2 linked regions of the Homo sapiens genome follow. The protein of the gene in region 1 interacts with the protein of each later gene in a pairwise test. Each region holds a gene or a part of one and is shown on either strand. Other genes may lie near its edges. The genes, in order: KLHL10 and GSTO2.

The links.
Region 2: the proteins of KLHL10 (region 1) and GSTO2 interact in binary tests that used the Homo sapiens proteins (3 or more experiments, as listed by UniProt).

What each region holds. Positions count from the first base shown.
Region 1 is NC_000017.11:41,832,201-41,841,660, reverse strand, and holds the start of KLHL10 (kelch-like protein 10), read right to left. Parts: upstream 3,837-9,460; 5' UTR 3,729-3,836; coding exon 3,535-3,728; intron 1-3,534. Other genes in the region: NT5C3B (7-methylguanosine phosphate-specific 5'-nucleotidase), read left to right, coding at 5,468-5,479, 5,704-5,802, 6,389-6,458, 6,545-6,591, 9,184-9,269. UniProt on the Homo sapiens protein: May be a substrate-specific adapter of a CUL3-based E3 ubiquitin-protein ligase complex which mediates the ubiquitination and subsequent proteasomal degradation of target proteins during spermatogenesis.
Region 2 is NC_000010.11:104,263,762-104,273,612, reverse strand, and holds the start of GSTO2 (glutathione S-transferase omega-2), read right to left. Parts: upstream 4,430-9,851; 5' UTR 4,344-4,429; intron 1-4,343. Other genes in the region: GSTO1 (glutathione S-transferase omega-1), read right to left, coding at 6,208-6,361, 7,423-7,529. UniProt on the Homo sapiens protein: Exhibits glutathione-dependent thiol transferase activity. Has high dehydroascorbate reductase activity and may contribute to the recycling of ascorbic acid. Participates in the biotransformation of inorganic arsenic and reduces monomethylarsonic acid (MMA).

The sequences.
Region 1 (9,460 bases):
GATGGAGAAATTAAGATCTAGAACTGAGAGTAAGACCCAGGTCTCTTGGGCCAGGCGTGGTGGCTCACGCCTATAATCTCAGCACTTTGGGAGGCCGAAGCGGGTGGATCATGAGGTCAGGAGTTCAAGACCAGCCTGGCCAACGTGGTGAAACCCCGTCTCTACTAAAAATACAAAAATTAGCTGGGCATGGTGGCACATGCCTGTAGTCCCAGCTACTTGGGAGGCTGAGGCAGGAGAATCGCTTAAACCTGGGAGGCGGAGGTTGCAGTGAGCCAAGATCATGACACTACACTCCAGCCTGGGGGACACAGCGAGACTCTGTCTGAAAAAATAAAAATAAAATGGCCACTCACTGCTTTTTATCTTCCTTTTCTTATTTTCCCAGGCATTTATGATGATTTGATATGCATTTTACTCATTTAATGCCTGTTTCCCCATCCAGGGGGTAAACTTCATGAGAACAGGAATGCTTCTCTTTTTATTAATTGTTTTCTTTTCTTTTTTTCTTTTTTTTTTTGGAAACAGGGTCTTGCTCTGTCACCCAGGGTAGAGTGCAATGGCATGATCTTGGCTCACTGCAACCTCCAACTCCAGAGTGCAAGCAATTTTCCTGCCTCAGCCTCTTGAGTAGCTGGGATTATAGGTGTGTGCCACCACGCTCAACTGATTTTTGTATTTTTTAGTAGAGATGCGATTTCACCATGTTGGCCAGGCTGGTTTCATCATATTGGTCAGGCTTGTCTCGCACTCCTGACCTCAGGTGATCTGCCTGCCTCGGCCTCCCAAAGTGCTGGGATTACACGGGTGAGCCACCATGCCCGGCTTTTGCTTCCTTTTTTTAAGAAGTTTAAGGAAATGTGGTCTTAGAAATCAAATTCTTCCTCTAGAGCAGGGGTCTGCAAACCTATGGACTCTGTCCAAATTTGGCCCACCTCTTGTTTTCATGCTGCCCACAAATTAAGAATGATTTTTACATTTTAAATGGCTGGAGGAAAAAATCTTTTTTTTTTTTTTGAGATGGAGTCTCGCTCTGTCACCCAGGCTGGAGTGCAGTGGCTTGATCTTGGCTCAGTGCAACCTCTGCCTCCCAGGTTCAAGCAATTCTCTGCCTCAGCCTCCCGAGTAGCTGGGATTATAGGTGCCCACCACCATGCCCGGCTTTTTGTATTTATGCCCGGTTTTTTGTATTTTTAGTAGAAATGGGATTTCACCATCTTGGCCAGGCTGGTCTTGAATTCCTGATCTCATGATCCACCCACCTCAGCCTCCCAAATTATTGGGATTCCAGGCGTGAGCCACTGCGCCCCGCTGGTTGGGGGAAAAAATCAAAAGAATATTCTGTGACACCTGAAAATTATAATACATTTAAATTTCAGTGTCCATAAATAATCTTATTGGAATACAGCCACACCCATTCATTTAGTATTGTCTAAGGCTGCTTTTGCAGTATAAAAACAGAGTAGTTGCAACAGACTGTGTGGCCTGCAAAAACCTAAAACAATTACTATTTGGTCTATTTCTGGACTCAGCTGAGCGCGTTGGCTCACGCCTGTAATCCCAGCACTCTGGGAGGCTGAGGCAGGCGGATCACCTGAAGTCAGGAGTTCAAGACCAGCCTGGCCAACATAGTGAAACCTGTAACCCCAGCTACTCGGGAGGCTGAGGCAGGAGAATTGCTTGAACTTGGGAGGCAGAGGTTGCAGTGAGCAGAGATCATGCCATTGCATTCCAGCCTGGGTGACAAGAACAAAACTCCATTTCAAAAAAAAAAAGAAAAATTAGCCAGATGTGGTGGCACACAGCTGTAATCCCAGATATTCGGGAGGCTGAGGCAGGAGAATCGCTTGAACCTGAGAGGTGGAGGTTGCAGTGAGCTGAGATTGTGCCACTGCACTCCAGCCTGGGTGACAGAGCAAGACTCCATCTCAAAAAAATAAAAATAAAAAATAAATTGTGGACTCTGCTCTGTGGTCTACCTGAATGAGAAGTTTTAGCAACAGGTAGGACACATTGATCATATCTTCATTGGAATTGATTACTCAAACATTTTCAGCTCATGAACAAAATAGCCCTTCTACCTCCTGGGTTACAATGGTTTTAGCCCAAACTCCCTTTTTCTTCTGATATTTCCTGGGTATTTCCCCCTCATCTCCCTTCCCATCCCCTTAATCCTTGTTAATTTATCACCCTGTTTGAAATGGTCTCTATTGGGATAGGGGTACAGGGGGGTCCCTGAAGTGGCATTGTCATCTGAAATCCAGTAGGGATGTCCAACCTTCCCAAAGGTTGGTTTGGGTGAGAATCAAAGATTAAAGCACCTGGCCCACCAATAGTTGGTTGAAATCCAGTTGAAAAATCAGACCTTAAAGGCTGGGTGCAGTGGCTCATGCCTGTAATCCCAGCACTTTGGGAGACCAAGGTGGGTGGATCACGAAGTCAGGTGTTCGAGACCAGACTGACCAACATGGTGAAACCCCGTCTCTACTAAAAACACAAAAATTAGCTGGGCATGGTGGCGGGAGCCTGTAATTCCAGCTACTCGGGAGGCTGAGACAGAAGAATCGCTTGAGCCTGGGAGGCAGCGGTTGCAGTGAGCCGAGATCACGCCACTGCATTCCAGCCTGGGGGACAAAGCGAGACTCCATCTTAAAAAAAGAAAAATTGTATCTTGCCAGGCGCGGTGGCTAATGCCTGTAATCCTAGCACTTTGGGAGGTCAAGACGGGCAGATCACCTGAGGTCAGGAGTTTGAGACCAGCCTGAGCGACATGGCAAAACCCTGTCTCTACTAAAAATACAAAAATTAGCCGGGCGTGGTGTCAGGCGCCTGTAATCCCAGCTACTTGAGAGGCTGAGGTGGGAGAATGGATTGAACTGGGGAGGCGGAGTTTGCAGTGAGCCGAGATGGCGCCATTGCACTCCAGCCTGGGTAACAGAATGAGACTCATCTCAAAAAAAAAAGACAAAAATCAGATCTCTCAAGAGCAAAAGGAAAAAAAAAAACAAAACAAACAAAAAAAAAAAAGAGAGAAAAAAGGCCCTGACCCTAGTCATGCCTCTTCAGAAGGCAAAGGAGCCAGGCAGGAGCTCCTGCCTGGACCAGAGTTGGCCAGGCACAGTGGTAATCCCAGCACTTTGGGAGACTGAGGCAGGAGGATCGCTTTGGGCCAGGAGTTCAAGACCAGCCTGGGCAACATAGCGAGACTCCCTCTCTACAGAACATTTCAAAAGTAGCCGGACGTAGCAGCATGTGCCTGTAGACCTAGCTACTTGGGAGGCTGGAGTAGGTGGATTGTTTGAGCCCAGCAGTTGAAGGCTGCAGTGAGCTATGATTGCATCACTACACTCCAGCCTGGGTGAAAGAATGAGAGCTTATCTCTAAAAAAAAAATTTTTTTTTAATTTTTAAGGAGCCCAGAGCTTTGACAGTGTCCCTAAAGTTAAGGTGATGGGGTGGGAAACAGAAAATGGATCAAAGTGTCTCAAAATGAGCCCAATTACCCCTTTGGCTGAATTTGGCAACCCTGTTATACCTAAAGTAGGAACTGCAGCTACAGAGGATGTTCTTATGGGCACTGAACTCAAAGCCATTGACCTTGATGACCACGTCGCAGAGCTTGCCCTCTAGTCTAAGCTCGTTGAAGATCTCACAGGCCATCGCACTCATCTTCCTCTCCATGTGAGGCTGGTGGAAACGTGTGGAGGCCGCCGCGCTCTCCATCTCCATGGCACCCTGGGACAGCGGAGAGAGGCTGCTTTCCTAGGGTGTCGGGGAGGGTTGTGGGGGGCCCCTTTAGCCAGCTGTCGCTCCTTTTCCCTACTACATCTTTTGTATAGGGTCTATCAGGCAACCCAAGTTCCAGAATCCTGGCCCTGCAGTGAGATCACACAGGATTGTGCTCTCAGGTTCTGGAACTGCCTCCTGGACTTGTCCTCTTCCTTCTCCCCTCCTTACCACCCCACTTAGGCTGAAAACCACCTCACACCTCCTTCTGTGTCCTTGAACCCAAAACAGAACCATGACCACTAGCACCATCTGAGTGTTTATTGATTCCAGCTCCTGTTACTCACCTGATACAGGTCTCTATCCCTGGAGCATTCATCTACCTTCCACAGCCCAACACTTGGCTCCCTAGACACCGAACTCAAGGAAATCCAAGTCAATTGAGGCTGAAGGGAGAAGTAAAACTGATTAAATTTCTTTCTTAGGCCGGGCGCAGTGGCTCACACCTGTAATCCCAGCACGAGGTGGATGGATCACAAGGTCAAGAGATCAAGGCCATCCTGGCCAACATGGTGAAACCTCGTCTCTACTAAAAATACAAAAATTAGCTGGGCGTGGTGGCACATGCCTGTAGTCCCAGCTACTTGGGAGGCTGAGGCAGGAGAATCGCTTCAACCCAGGAGATGGAGGTTGTAGTGAGCCGAGATCGCTCCACTGCACTCCAGCCTGGCGACAGAGTGAGACTCCATCTCAAAAAAAAAATCTTTCTTTTTCTAGGGACGGGTCTCGCTCTCTCACCCAGGCTGGAGTGCAGTGGTGTGATCATAACTCACTACAGCCTCGACCTCCTGGGCTTAAGTGATCCTCCCACCTCAGCCTCCTGAATAGCTGGGATTACAAGTGCTCCGCACCGTGCCCAGCCAACGCTGATTACATTTCAGAAAGCTGTCCCGGGTCTCCCAGCCCGCTGGATGGGTTAGTCACTCAGTTTCTTCTGGAATGAGGAATGGCCTAGTTAACAGAGCCCTTTCTGGGTGATTAACAGAATTCAGTTTATGGCTCCTTCATCTCTCCTCCCATCCAGCCGTGTGGTTTTTCTGTTTTTGTTTCTGAGACAGGGTGTCATCTGTCACCCAGGGTGGAGTGCAGTGGTATGATCTCGGCCTACTGGAGCCTGGATCTCCCGGGCTCAAGTGATCCTCGTGCCTCAGCCTCCCGAGTAGCTGGGACTACAACAGGTGCGTGTCACCATGCCCGGCTAATTTTTGTATTTTTTGTAGAGACAGGGTTTCGTCATATTGCCCAGGCTGGTCTCGAACTCTTCGGCTCAAGCGATCATCCTGCCTCGGCCTCCCAAAGTCCTGGGATTACAGGTATGGGCCACCGCGCCCAGCCCCAGTCATGTTTTTGTCACAAACTTTCAGCCTGGAAATGACCACGTTTGGCAAGGCTTTTCCTCCACAAAGAGTGGCAGAACCCTACCTACCCACGTAACCCCAACACCTTGGGACCTTCACCCTGCTCTTCATAATAAATAGAACCCTCCTCCAGTTTGCCTAGCGCAACCGGCAAGCCCACCCGGATCGCGGCCATCTCCGGGACCGCTCGATTCTCGGCCCCACCCCCGCCCCGCCCCCGGCCCCACCAACCCCCGCCCGGGCTCCAGGCGGGAGGCGACGCCTGCGCAGTGCGGTCGCGGGGCTGTCGTTGTCCCGCGAGCCGCCGACCAGGCCTCGAACGGGATGGCAGAGGAGGTGAGGAGGGAGGAAGCGTCCGGAGTGGGGCGGGCCCGGACTCCGACCCCCGGGGCGCTTCGAGCCCCCCAGCTGGTCACCGAGGCACCGCCGCTTCACCCAGGCCAGTAGCCGCCCCCTCGCGCACCCCGGCCCCGCCTCACACGCGCGCCCGAGCGAGCCCCGGGCTCCCCTCGGGCCCAGCGTGGCGCAGGGGTCAGTGGTTCTCTCGGGTCTCGGGACAGGTGAGCACCCTGATGAAGGCCACGGTCCTGATGCGGCAGCCTGGGCGGGTGCAGGAGATCGTGGGCGCCCTCCGCAAGGGCGGCGGAGACCGGTTACAGGTACCTCTGGGGCGTGCGGGGGCCGGCCGGGCTGGGGGCGGCTGGAGAGGCTTCCTGCCCATTGGGCCTTCCCGCTTTGCTCTGCCGCGGACCCCTCCTAGCTCTCTGCCCCAAGAAATGGCCGGGAGCTTGAAGGAGAGCGGGTTGGTTCGCCTGTCCTAAAACCCAAATTTCAGATTTCTCAATATGGTCATGCTGCTTCCTCTAATTGGACAGAAGGCGCCCACACCAGTACCTAGGGCCTTATCCTCCCCAAGCCAGCGGCTCCCCAGTAAGTTGAAGATGTCCAGATGGGCCGTAATGGTAGAGATCTCTTAGGAGGGACCTGATATTGAAGGAGTCAGAGGGGTCCTGAGTATTCACCCTTGCCCCCACACTAGGAGACTGCGTTTTCCTCAGGGTTAACGGGTACTAATTAGGATCACTTCCCCTCTATCCCTCTGTGTCACTCGGTAACTCCCCTAGGGCTTTGCCTACATCCTGGCCACTGAGCTGTATTGATTTCCATAATCATCCCCCAGGCTGAGGCAGGGCCACACTAGAATTCTGGTGCCTATTTAGGCATCATCTCTCTTTTGCCTTATAGGTGATTTCTGATTTTGACATGACCTTGAGCAGGTTTGCATATAATGGAAAGCGATGCCCTTCTTCTTACAGTAAGTCACATTCTAGCTTCCCTTGTTGAGCTTGACAAGACGATGGGTTCTAAGGGACAAGTAAAAGGAGTTTTCTCTTTTTCCAGATATTCTGGATAATAGCAAGATCATCAGTGAGGAGTGTCGGAAAGAGGTGGGTTGCTCCCGTCCTTTGCTCAGAAATGGTTGTCATTTGCTACTTCAAATGGTTCCTGATTGGAACCAAAGATTCCAGTATAGAGACCTTAGAAAATTAATTTTTAAAAACTTGTTGTTTTGCTAAGGAGGGTCTAGTTTTAATACATTAAGACAGCTTTTCCTTACTGGCCAGGACATATGATGATTAATGGTTGGAACTGGACATTATATTTACTGTTGGCTATAGAGTTTACAAGAGATTTGAACATTCTGGAGGTTCAGCAACTTACCCAGGGTCATACAGCCAAATGGCAGAGCTTGTTTGTTTGTTTGTTTTGAGACAGGGTCTCACTCTATCACCCAGGCTGGAGTGCAATGGCTTGATCTTTGTTCACTGCAGCCTTGACCTCCTAGGCTCAAGTGATCCTCCTGCCTCAGCCCTACTGAGTAGCTGGAACTACAAGCATGTAACATTACACCTAGCTAATTTTAAAAATTTTTTGTAGAGATGGGGTCTCACTATGTTGCCTAGGTTGGTCTTGAACTCCTGAGCTCAAGCAATCCTCCTTCCTCAGCCTCCCCAAAGTGCTGGGCTTATAGGCATGAGCTACCACACCTGGCCTTTTTAAAAGAAAATTTATATTCTTCTGTTGGGTTCTAGTGTGTGTGTGTGTGTGTGTGTGTGTGTGTGTATTTTTTTTTTTGAGACAGAGTCTTGCTCTATGGCCCAGGCTGGAGTGGCATAATCTCAGCTCACTGCAACCTCGGTTCAAGCAATTCTCATGCCTCAGCCTCTCGAGTAGCTGGGATTACCAGCATGCATCACCATGCCCGGCTAATTTTTGTATTTTTAGTAGAGACGAGGTTTCTCCATGTTGGTCAGGCTGATCTCGAACTCCCAACCTCAGGTGATCCGCCCGCCTTGGCCTCCCAAAGTGCTGAGATTACAGGCATGAGCCATCTTGCCCAGCCTGATTTTTAGAGAAAGGTTCTCACTCCAAAAAAACACACAGATTGAGAATCTTAATACATTTCAGAAGTTTTCTGCCTTTGTTACTATGTCATCTTTCATTTAATCTTCTTTTGAACAGATGGACAGGGATTCCATTTGATCTTGTAATGTTCCTGAGAATCATGCATGTATTAAAATTCTTTACTTGGTCAATTCTCATTTTTACTAGGCACTGTTACGGACTGGCTCTGTGTAACACATGATCCCTGGAACAGCCCCTTTAGAGTGTCAAAGTCTTGGCACATAGAAGGAAACCTTAGAGGAAACACACATAGATGCTGTGCATTCACATGATATTGACACTTTTGACGGAATTGTCCACCAACATGCTGTGTCCCAAAGTACAGTCTTCTAGTTATATTTCATTTTTTTTGCCATATCTGTATATCACCTTTACTAAATCTTTCTCTAAATTGGCCTGCTTTTAAAAATTGTAATTAACTTATAAAGAAACAGGCCGGGTGTGGTGGTTCACGCCTGTAATCCCAGCATTTCTGGGAGGCTGAGGCGGGCAGATCGGTTGAGGTCAGGAGATCGAGACCAGCCTGGACAACATGGCAAAACCCTGTCTCTACTAAAAATACAAAAAATTAGCTGGGCGTAGTGGTGCCTGCCTGTAATCCCAGCTACTCGGGAGGCTGAGGCAGAAGAATTGCTCGAACCCGGGAGGCGGAGGTTGCAGTGAGCCGAGATTGCGCCACTGCACTCCAGCCTGGGCAACAGAGTGAGACTTGTCTCAAAAAAAAAAAAAATTGTACATGAAAATGAATCCAAAACTTCTGAGTTGAAAAGCGCTTCTCCATGAATTCCCTAAAGTTTTCTTACCTATCACCTGAGAAAGTGGACCACATTCTGGGAAACACAGCATTAAGTAAGTTCTTACTGGTTAAGCCCTGAAAATTGAGCTAATTAATAACAGCAAAAAAATCTTAGTACCCTTCTTCTCTGATAGTAAAATCTCATATTGCTGACTTTTAGACCTCACTCTCAGGGTGAGTACAAAGGAATGACCAGCTCTGTGGATCCAGGTGCTCCCTGGACTTCACCAAATGGGTAAAAATGTGAGTGTATTGAGCGATTATGTTGGAAGATAATATGAGAAGAGAAACTTAGGTCTTATAAATGACATGTCCCCAAAGGAAAACTTGAAGAAAATTTCATGTAACACTCTCTTAGATGAAGTTGCATCTTCTTTTTATTTGAGACACAGTTTTACTCTGTGGCCCAGGCTGGAGTGCAGTGGTGTGATCTCGTCTTGGCTCACTGCAACCTCCGCCTCCTGGGTTCAAACGATTCTCATTTTTCAGCCTCCTGAGTAGCTGGGATTAAAGGCGCATGCCACTACACCGGCTAATTTTTGTATTTTTTAGTAGAGACAGGGTTTCGCCATGTTGGCCAGGCTGGACTCGAACTCCTGACCTCAAGTGATCCACCTGCCTCAGCCTCCTAAAGCACTGGGATTGCAGGTGTGAGCCACCGCCCCTGGCCATGAAGTTGCCTCTTCTAGGTGACTTTTTTCTCATACTAAGCTGTAGGACGTTGCTGGGAAGAACTTGATATGGACTAATGGCCTTTCTCCCCATTTGGATATCCCAGCTCACAGCGCTCCTTCACCACTATTACCCAATTGAGATCGACCCACACCGGACCGTCAAGGAGAAGCTACCTCATATGGTGGAATGGTGAGTGATGGTGGTGGAGAAAAGCTTCTGGGCCCTTGAGATGGAGTAGGCTGGGAGGGGCATATTTTTCCAGACCCTTGATGAGATGACAGGCTCCCTTACTTCACTGAGGGCTTAATTTAATACTATTAGTCCAGCTATTGGAACCAACTTTTCAGATGAACCCAGGGCTTTTTGTGGCTGCTGCTAGA
Region 2 (9,851 bases), on another chromosome or scaffold:
TCTAAATATCTTTTATTAAAATGACAGAGCCTAATTATGTAGCTTATAACTGGGTACTGTTTGGCCTTTGGAATTCCAGTCTATCCAGAACTTCTTGGTTAATAATAGTGTTAACATTTTTTGCTAGTGAATAAGAATCTTTGCAAATCTTCAGAATAGTGACTCAACTACATTTTTTGCTGTCATTCAATGATTTCATGTGAAATAAGCTTAGATAATAATATGGAAAGTATTAACATTTTATAAGAATCAGGGAATGGCAAAAATGTTTGAATAAATGTTCTCTGAAAATAAAATGCATATATGTCAGCAAGAAATCTGGTGTTGGAGAAGACATATTGGTTCCCGGCTTGCTACGCTGACAACTTTTCATTTAAGAAGACAGAGAAAGTAACAGAGTAACTTCTACTACTTTGGAGCTAATTCTGATCAAGAAGGACAAATTGGATGGTAAAATAGAAGCAAGAAACACAACCATGTCATCTTAGAGCTCCTGGTAGGTAAGATGACTTCTGGGCATACACATGCATCCCTCATATAAAAAAAGCAGATTTCAAGATAGTTGAGAAAAATATATCCATAGCCTAAAAAAGGCCATAAGAGGGTTGCAAAATCTCAAAATCAAAATAAATTATTACTAATATATATTTGGTGCTTCATGTGTATTGACCCAGTTAATTCTTAAAATAGTCCAATAACTGGGCCGGGTGCGGTGGCTCATGCCTGTAATCCCAGCACTTTGGGAGGCCGAGGCGGGCGGATCACGAGGTCAGGAGATTGAGGCCATCCTGGCTAACGTGGTGAAACCCCGTCTCTACTAAAAACACAAAAATTAGCCGGGCGCGGTGGCAGGCGCCTGTAGTCCCAGCTACTCAGGAGGCTGAGGCAGGAGAACGGCGTGAACCCGGGAGGCGGAGCTTGCTGTGAGCCGAGACTGCGCCACTGCACTCCAGCCTGGGCGACAGAGCGAGACTCCGTCTCAAAAAAAAAAAAAAAAAAAAAAAAAAAAAAAAAAAAAAAAAAAAGTCCCATAACTGTTCTATTTTGATTCACTTTAAAAGATGAGTAAACTGAGACTAGCATAGTTAAGCACTTCTCAACTAGTAAGTGAAAGAGGGAGGACTAGGAACCCTGGAAGTTTGACTCCAGCGGCAACAATCTCAACCAGTATCTTAGTCTTTATCAGATGCCATGAACTGAATGATTGGCAAATGTTTTTACATATATTAAATATTTCAGGCTTTTCAGGCCATCTGGTCTCCACTATTTAGTTCTACACTTGTAGTGTAAAAACAGCCATCGATGATAAATAAACAAATGGGTGTGGCTGTATTTATGGACACACTGAATTTGAACTGCATATATGTATTTTAATAGCCTTTTTTTAAAAAAAAGTTTTAGATTCACAGCAAAATTGAGCAGAAAATACACATTTCCCATATACCCTGTGCCCCCGCACATGCACAGTCTCTTCCACTATCAATATTCCAATCAGAGAGGTACATTTATTACAATCAATGAACCCACATTGACATATTATCACCCAACATCCATAGTTAATATATTAGGGCTCACTCTTGGTGAATTTCATATAATTTTCACATATCACGTTGTGACTGGTTTTTCTTTTTCAACCCTTTAAAAATGTAAAAAATCATTCTTAGATATTGAGCTATAAAAAAACCAACAATTGGTTGGATTTAGCCCAATGGCCTTAATTTGCCCATCCATGGTCTCTGGATAATGGCCAAACTGGGAATTCCATTTGTAAATTAAAAGGTTCCTGGATCCACCTTTCTACTTTGCCAGAAGAGGATGATTTTCCAAGTTTTGTTTTTTCATTCCCACCTTTTAAAAGAAACTAACTCTGAGAGTTGGGAAATGTTCATGAAAAGTGTATCTGTATGTGGGAAATCAAGTTCTGAAATGCCAAGTTAATTTGGTAGAGTTAGAAGACAGGGATGGAAGCTGTTCTCCTCTAAAGGGAAACAATCTAGTGTCAAGGTTCTCAGAACAGGCCCTGGAGCCCAATGGGCTGACTTTTTGAGACCCAGCTTTGGCACTTAGGCAAGCTATCTAACCTTTTTGGATTTCACTTTCCTCACCTGCAAAATGAGAACACCAATAATACCTACTTTATGAATTGTGAGTATCGAATCAAATAGTCCAGGGCATCGTCAGTATAGTAAGAGCTCAGTATACGTCAAAGTTAATGACAAACGCTAGTGAGTAAGAACACATTTTAAATAGCAGAGTGCATTCCAATTTTGTATCCACAAAGATGAAGCACACTGTGATTCGGCTTTGCCAAGCATATTAGAATTAAAGTTCAACTCACAATACTTATTTCACCAGTTACCAGTTTAATGCCAATTGAATGGGCTGAATGCTGCAGACTCCATTTCAGTAATGTGGTTTTTAATCTTACCTCTGAACACTATACTTTCCCTAGAAAGATTTTAACCTTAAGCTTATCCCTACTTTCTTTTGAATACCCAACAGGTACTTCTTTGAAATCCTCTTTGCAAACTTTCCTTCTATGTTATTTCATGTTTATACCTTTATTATACTGACCCACTCAATCATGAAACAAATTGTAAGTAGACCATATTAAACCTACTCCAAATCCATTTTCAGCCACCTGAAATATGATCGGATCTGCTTTGAAAATGTTTGGATCTTCGGTCATGGGTGATTAACGACTTAAGCCTTCTAGGAAAATAATGCCACCAAAGAAATAGCTTACACTCTATTTACATGCATTTGTTTTGAGAAGAGGAACTGTGGTTTGCATTCGGCAACTTTTCAAAATTTTTTGTCACGCCATCTCTTGATAGTAGCAGAAACTGGACTGGAGTACATTCCTCTTAATAAGTTAGAAGCCTAATTTATATGAAAGATTATATTACTGGGTGTTCCCTTATTGTCCAATGAGTTCAAAAAGTGAGATACGTTAGGTAAAAGGTTCTATTCTCAAATGTGCTTATATTCAGGAAAAATTTCATATTCCCAATTGGGAAATCAGGGTCAAATGAGGCTATCTTTTTAACTACTTGATTCTGCTTCCCTATCCCTATTTCTCTCTACAACTTGAGGAATCAAAGAAAAAAAAAACTTTTTAAATAAATATTTGGTATAATAACATTTGAATAAGTAAAGGCAAATTGTCAAGATCCTGAAATCAGGAAAAGTCAAATAATTTGTAAAATCAAAACCACTGAGTTTGGAAAAGGAACATTATTAACTCATTAACTCCTGTTAAATCCCACGAATAATGGTGTGGTCAAAAAGGCAGATACAGGCCGGGCGCGGTGGCTCACGCCTGTAATCCCAGCGATTTGGGAGGCTGAGGCGGGCGGATCACGAGGTCAAGAGATCGAGACCATCCTGGCTAACACGGTGAAACCCCGTCTCTACTAAAAATACAAAAAATTAGCCGGGCGCGGTGGCGGGCGCCTGTAGTCCCAGCTACTTGGGAGGCTGAGGCAGGAGAATGGCGTGAACCCGGGAGGCGGAGCTTGCAGTGAGCCGAGATCGCGCCACTGCAGTCCGGCCTGGGCAGAACAGCGAGACTCCGTCTCAAAAAAAAAAAAAAAAGGTAGATACTATCCTCTGTCAGAGCTGTTGGATAAAGAGACTGGAAAAATAGCACATATAAATTCATCTCACGAACGGTCTTACTGTAAGAGTTCAGGCTAGATTCGAATCTCTTCAATATTTATTAGCTGGGTGACCTTGGGCAAATGACAACAACTTTCGGGTGTTCTTATATGTAATTCGTAGCTAATAGTACCAGTACATTATGTGGTTTGCGAAGGTTTCATTCAGAAACTGGATGAGAAATATTGAATGCTTAGCATGTGTCTGATACATAGTAAGTGTTCAACATTAGCTATTATTATTTTATGATTATTTCAATGTAGCAGGGAAGACTTTTCACAGTTTTCACAAAGACAGCACATTCCCAGAAACCAAATTCCCCTGCTTGCCAGTGCCTTAAACACGTAAACACGTGGGACTCGTGGTGTCCCACGCAAGGCTGAGAACTGGTTATCTGGGGTGGTCTCTGCCTGTTTCCAGCCAAATCAGAAAAAATAAGAACACCTTAATTAAAGGTATGCGGTTTAAAGACCTGTTCTTTATTCTTAGGCTGCACTTTGTTGGATGTGAAATTCTTTGATGCAACAGTGGCCAAGGCTAAATAGGATTTCTCGTAAAGTGTTAGGCAAAAGTTAAAGTTGGCAAGCCTACTGTGGGCCCCGAAATTCGTGAAAACCCCAGGAAACAGAATTGACCTCAAACCCCTCTTCCCTTCCAATACAACGCAGGCCGAACGGACCCACCGGTGGCGGTGAGAGAGGTCCCGCGAGAGACCTCCGGGAACTCGGGCAACCGGACCAGGATTGGCGGCGGCAGCAGCAGCAAGGAGGCGGGGCCTAGACGGGGCCTGCCCCTCGCACGTGATCCTACCCGCCAACTAGCCCCGGCGCCCAGAGCATCAGCCAATCCTCAAAGCTTTGGAAGTACCTGCCCAGCAGTGCGGCTGAGCCAATGGGCGGCCTCCTTACAGGCTCCTGGAGATCGGGATTCGCGGGTCCTGCCGGCGCCGGTGGCTGACGAAAGAGGAACCGGTAGTGGTTGGCTGTGGGACCCCGGCACCCGGCTCCGCACCTGAGGGGAAATCCGCTGGAAAGCACTAGGGCCAAGCGGCTCCGGTAGGCGCGCGGCAGCAGAGGTGGTCCGCCGCCGGCAGCCGGGGCTTTGGTGGCCGCTGAAGGTTTGCGGCAGGAGGCCTTTGTGAAGTCAGTCGGCTCCAGGTCGCCCTCCGGATGCGGTCCCCACACCGCCTGCGTCACCTGGGTTGAGGGGCTCATTTGAAATACAGACTTCGCTACCCACCCCAGCCTGCTGAATCGGAAATGCAGCGGTGAGCCATAGGTGATTATTATGCACCCTTAAATTTAAGAATTAGTCATTCGGAGGTTTCTCTCAATGGCGAACTTGAAAATAAGTTCAGGAAACCAGACAATTGGAGCGGACCGACAGCCCTGATTCCAATGGTAAGAGCAGTGCGCTGGGTGTGATCTTTCTGCCAGCACCTTAAGGCCTCACTTAACCTCGGGACCTTAGTTGCATCATCTATAGAATGAAATGATTGCTCTCCGACCTACCTTCTCGTGGTGGTGATGTGATAATAAAAATTGAATAGTGAGCAACCCAGTGGGCTATGGAAATGTGTGGAAGATGGCATTTCTATTTCTCAGTGGGGCTCTTACCTATTACTCATCAACCTTGTAGGCAGAATTGACTGATGCAGCCTACACAGTATTTAATTACATAAATGGGACACCACCTATGTGCCCAACATGGGATTTGATAGGAAGGATTTGAAGGGGTTAGAGACAGGGAGACCAAATAGGAGTCTGCCCAGCCACCCAGCTTTCGGGTAATGTGCGTCTGGTCTTCAGGGCCAACAATAGAGAGAATGTGAAATTAAGTTGATGATGGAAATGAAAGAAGGAGGAATTGAAAGCTTCTCAACTAAGAAACCAGAAGACAAGCAACAAGAGAGCATCTCATGAAATCACACAACAGGGTAACTGAGTGGGTATTTCCTGTGAGCAGTTATAAAGTTAGATTGTGGACGGGTACGGTGGCTCATGCCACTTTGGGAGGCCGAGGCGCGCCGATCACCTGAGGTCGGGAGTTGGAGACCAGCCTGACCAACATGGAGAAACCCCTTCTCTACTGATAATACAAAAAAATTAGCCAGGCGTGGTGACGCATGCCTGTAATCCCAGCTACTCAGGAGGCTGAGGCAGGAGAATCGCTTGAACTCAGGAGGCGGAGGTTGCGGTGAGCTGAGATCAGGCCATTGCACTCCAGCCTGGTCAACAAGAGTGAAACTCCGTCTCAAAAAAAAAAAAAAGATTCAAGTCCAGATTTTGCTAAAGATGATAATTTGGGGGTTTTCAGCATGGACTATGATAGAACCCTCAGAGTCGTTTCAGCATCCTGAGACAGGAAATGCATTTTCATTTCTGTAGGGGGGCGTTAAGGAGACCCCCACCGTTTGGCTGTTGATGTCAAATCAGTCAGAGAAGATGATCCCATGCAACCTGAACCTTGGTAAAATAAAAGCATGCTATTATTCATATTAGTGAAGGAAAATATCAGACATAGCTTTATTGCTGACTCCTGCCCCCTTCAGAGCCCATAGTCACAGGCCTCAGGGCTGTTCTGTAAGTAGAGCTCTAGGAAACCTTGCCAGTCTTTCTCACTAGTAAGCAGGGCTGAGACTGTGGGATCTTCCTTCATGGCTGCCATCCACAGTTTCAGTTTTGGAGTGTGGTCTACACACCTGTGGGAAGAGGAAAAAATGAAAGGTGTGAGCTAGGTCAACTAGGATGACATCACAGAGTCTCCCATATGTAATTATTACTCTACAGTTTCACTTTTTTCCCTTAAATATTTCATTAAAAATATTTAAAAATGCCTGTAATAGAATATTCAATTTGAAAGACACTATAGAGGTCCCTTTTTTACACAAAAGGAATGAGACTAGAGTGAAGCAATTTGTTCAGTTAATGTGAGAACTTGCCCAAAGAGAGAAACTGACAATTTATTAAAATAAGAACAGGGAATACAATCAGGAATGTTCTATGTTAATTATTCTACACCCAGATTATGACCAAAAGTAACCCTGAATAGCTCTATCGTCCAAGAAGCCGGAGTAAGGCAAGGTGGCTGCCAAACTCAAAACAGAATTTGGAAAATAATGTGGAAATCTTACGGTAAATGGGAGGTAACACTGGTCGTACAATCCCGCAACAACATCCTTACAAAAATTTACAACCTTATGGAATTTTTTTTTTTTTTTTGATGAAGTGTCTTGCTCTTGCCCAGGCTGGAGTTCAGTGACATGATCTCAGCTCACTGCAACTGCCTCCCGGGTTCAAGTGATTCTCCTGCCTCAGCCTCCCGAGTAGCTGAGATTACAGGTGTGTACCACCATGCCCAGCTAATTTTTGTATTTTTAGTAGAGATGGGGTTTCACCACATTGGCCAGGCTGGTCTCTAACTCCTGACCTCAGATGATCCACCCGTCTCGGCCTCCCGAAGTGCTGGGCTTACAGGCGTAAGCTACCATATCCTTCCCCTTATGGGTTTTTAATCAGGAAGGAAGGAATAAATTTTAAAGCACTTTACTACATGTCTCAGAAATCCCCTGCCCCATTGCAGTGATGGAGAGTAGTTAGTGTAGGTATATGACATGCCTGGGATAGTCCAAGATTCCCCTGTCTGCTTGTTCTCATTCAGACCAGTTGTATTAAATATTTCAACTTCTGTTATAAAGAAAGGTCAATATATACTATTCCACCTGTCATCCTAAATTATGCACAAAATATTCAAATATCTTACTCATTTAACTTCATTGCTTCCAGCCGTTCAAACCAGGGCCAGATGAGGTAATCAATCATAGAGATAGAATTGCCACCAAAGAAGGTCGTCTTCTTATTAGTCAGAACCTGAACATTAAACAGCATAAAAGTATTTCTTACTTGTGCATGTAGTAAGACTCACTAGAAATGCTGAAGGGAAATAAGTAGAGCAGGTGAGAGAAGCAGTTTTTACTCCGATGTATCCAAGTTGGGTTTTTTTCTGATCAAAAAGCTTAATTAAGCTTTAGAATCTGTTGGTCTGGGATGAAGTAAAACAATCAACAACATAAACTGGAAAATTGAAAAATAAAACAAGTCACAGAGTACAACATATTTGTAATACAAAGGACTGGTATTCAGAATATAGAAAGGATTCCTGGGAATCAGTAAGAAAAATAGCAAACGACCCATTGGAAAAATGAGCAAGACTTGATCTTCAAGAAAGATGATGTCCAAATGGCCAATTATCATTTGGAAAGGTGTTCAACTGCATTAGTCATTAGGGAAATGCAAATTAAAACCAAAATGCAATAACACTATACACCCAAGAGAATGCCTACAATGAACAAAATGAAGTTGGCAAGGGTATGGAACCACTGTCGTAGAGGTGTAAATTGGTACAACCATGTTTTAAGAGTATGCATACTCATCACCCAGCAATTGTACTTGGCAATGTAACACATGTTCACCAAAAGATATGTTATGTGAATGTTCACTGCAGCACTATTTGTAATAGCCCAAATGTGAAAACGTTTACTATCAAGAGTAGAATGGGTAAAGTGTAATATACTATACTTTGGAACACTGTATAAAGAACAGGAAAGAACTACACACAGCAGAGATGAACCCACAAACCTAATATTGAATGAAAGCAGGCAGACCCAAAAGATGAACATTATATGAGTCCATTTGTATAAAGTACAAAAAAGCCCAAACTAGTATTTTGTTAGTTGATATGGGTGCTGGTTCCATGGCTGTGTTCGCTTTGTGAAAACGTGTTGTGTTTTTATGCTTTGGGTACTTCTCTGCATTAAAAATTAAAAATATTAACTTTTCAATATAAAATGCACAGTCTGCAGCTTATGATGGTTCAATTTAAATTCTTTTCAACTTTACGACGGTGCAAAAGCAAGCATTCAGTAAAAACTCTACTTTGAACTTTGAATTTTGCTCTTTTCCTGGGCTATCGATTTGCAGTATGATAACTCTTGATGCTGGGCAGCCATACCATCAAGAGAGTAAACAACCAATGCTCTAAAGTGTGCTGTGTTGCCAGCATCTTTTGGATGCAGGTATTCGATAAATTATATGAGATATTCAACACTTTATAAATATTTTATGTTTGATGGTTTTATGTTTGATGATTTTGCCTAATTGCAGGCTAATGGAAGTTTTCTGAGCACATTTAAAGCAGGCTAGGCTAAGCTATGATGCTCTGTAGGTTGGGTTTATTAAATGCATTTTCCACTTATGATATTTTCAGCTTACGGTGGGTTTATTGGATGTAACCCCATTGTAAGTGCAAAAGCATTTGTACTTAAAATATACTGGAAATAGACTGGATTAACTGCTAAACAGATGACAATCATTTGAAAACAAAACACAAATTGTATGTTTCTGAAATTTTAAGAAGGCGAATTGGTTACAGGGTTTGCCAAAGGGGGTGATTGAGAATATTATCTGGCTATTTAAACCACCAAACTAATTTGCCCTTTATAAATAACCTCCATAGTTTTTTTTCAATGCATAATATGCATTTTAGATTGCTTATATCTACCTACTGTGTTCTGTCTACTACTAAACTAATTATCTGAAGAATATGGACTGCATCTTACTTTCCAGCTCCCACACTGTTCAGCAGAAAAATATAAAAGTACCAACACTGATTCAAGAAGAAATATAAAACCAAAAAACCAATTACCATTAAAGAAATCAAACTAGTAATGAAAAATCTACCCCTGTTAAAGACACCAGGCTCAAATGTTTTAAAGAAACCGCTAGTCCCTACCAAATGGTTTCAGAGATTAGAAAAACAGGTTAGTTACCCAACTCATTTTATGAGGTCAGAATATCCTTGAAACCAAAAGCCAATAATGATACTATAAGAGTAGAAAATTTATAGGCCAATCTCATTTATGAACACACATACAAAAATCATTCATTAGCTAATTCTACAGTACATATAAAAATCCATAGAGAACAAGTAGGTTTTATCTTAGGAATGCTAGGATGGTTAAACATTAAAAAAAAAAAAATTTGTCAATAGCACCATATTCACCAGATTAAGAGGAAAAAATTCTATGAACATTTCAATAGATGTAACAGATGCAGAAAAACCATTCAATAAAATTCAACATTTATGACTTTTTTAAAAATTAGCAAACTAGTAATAGAAGAGAACTTTATAAT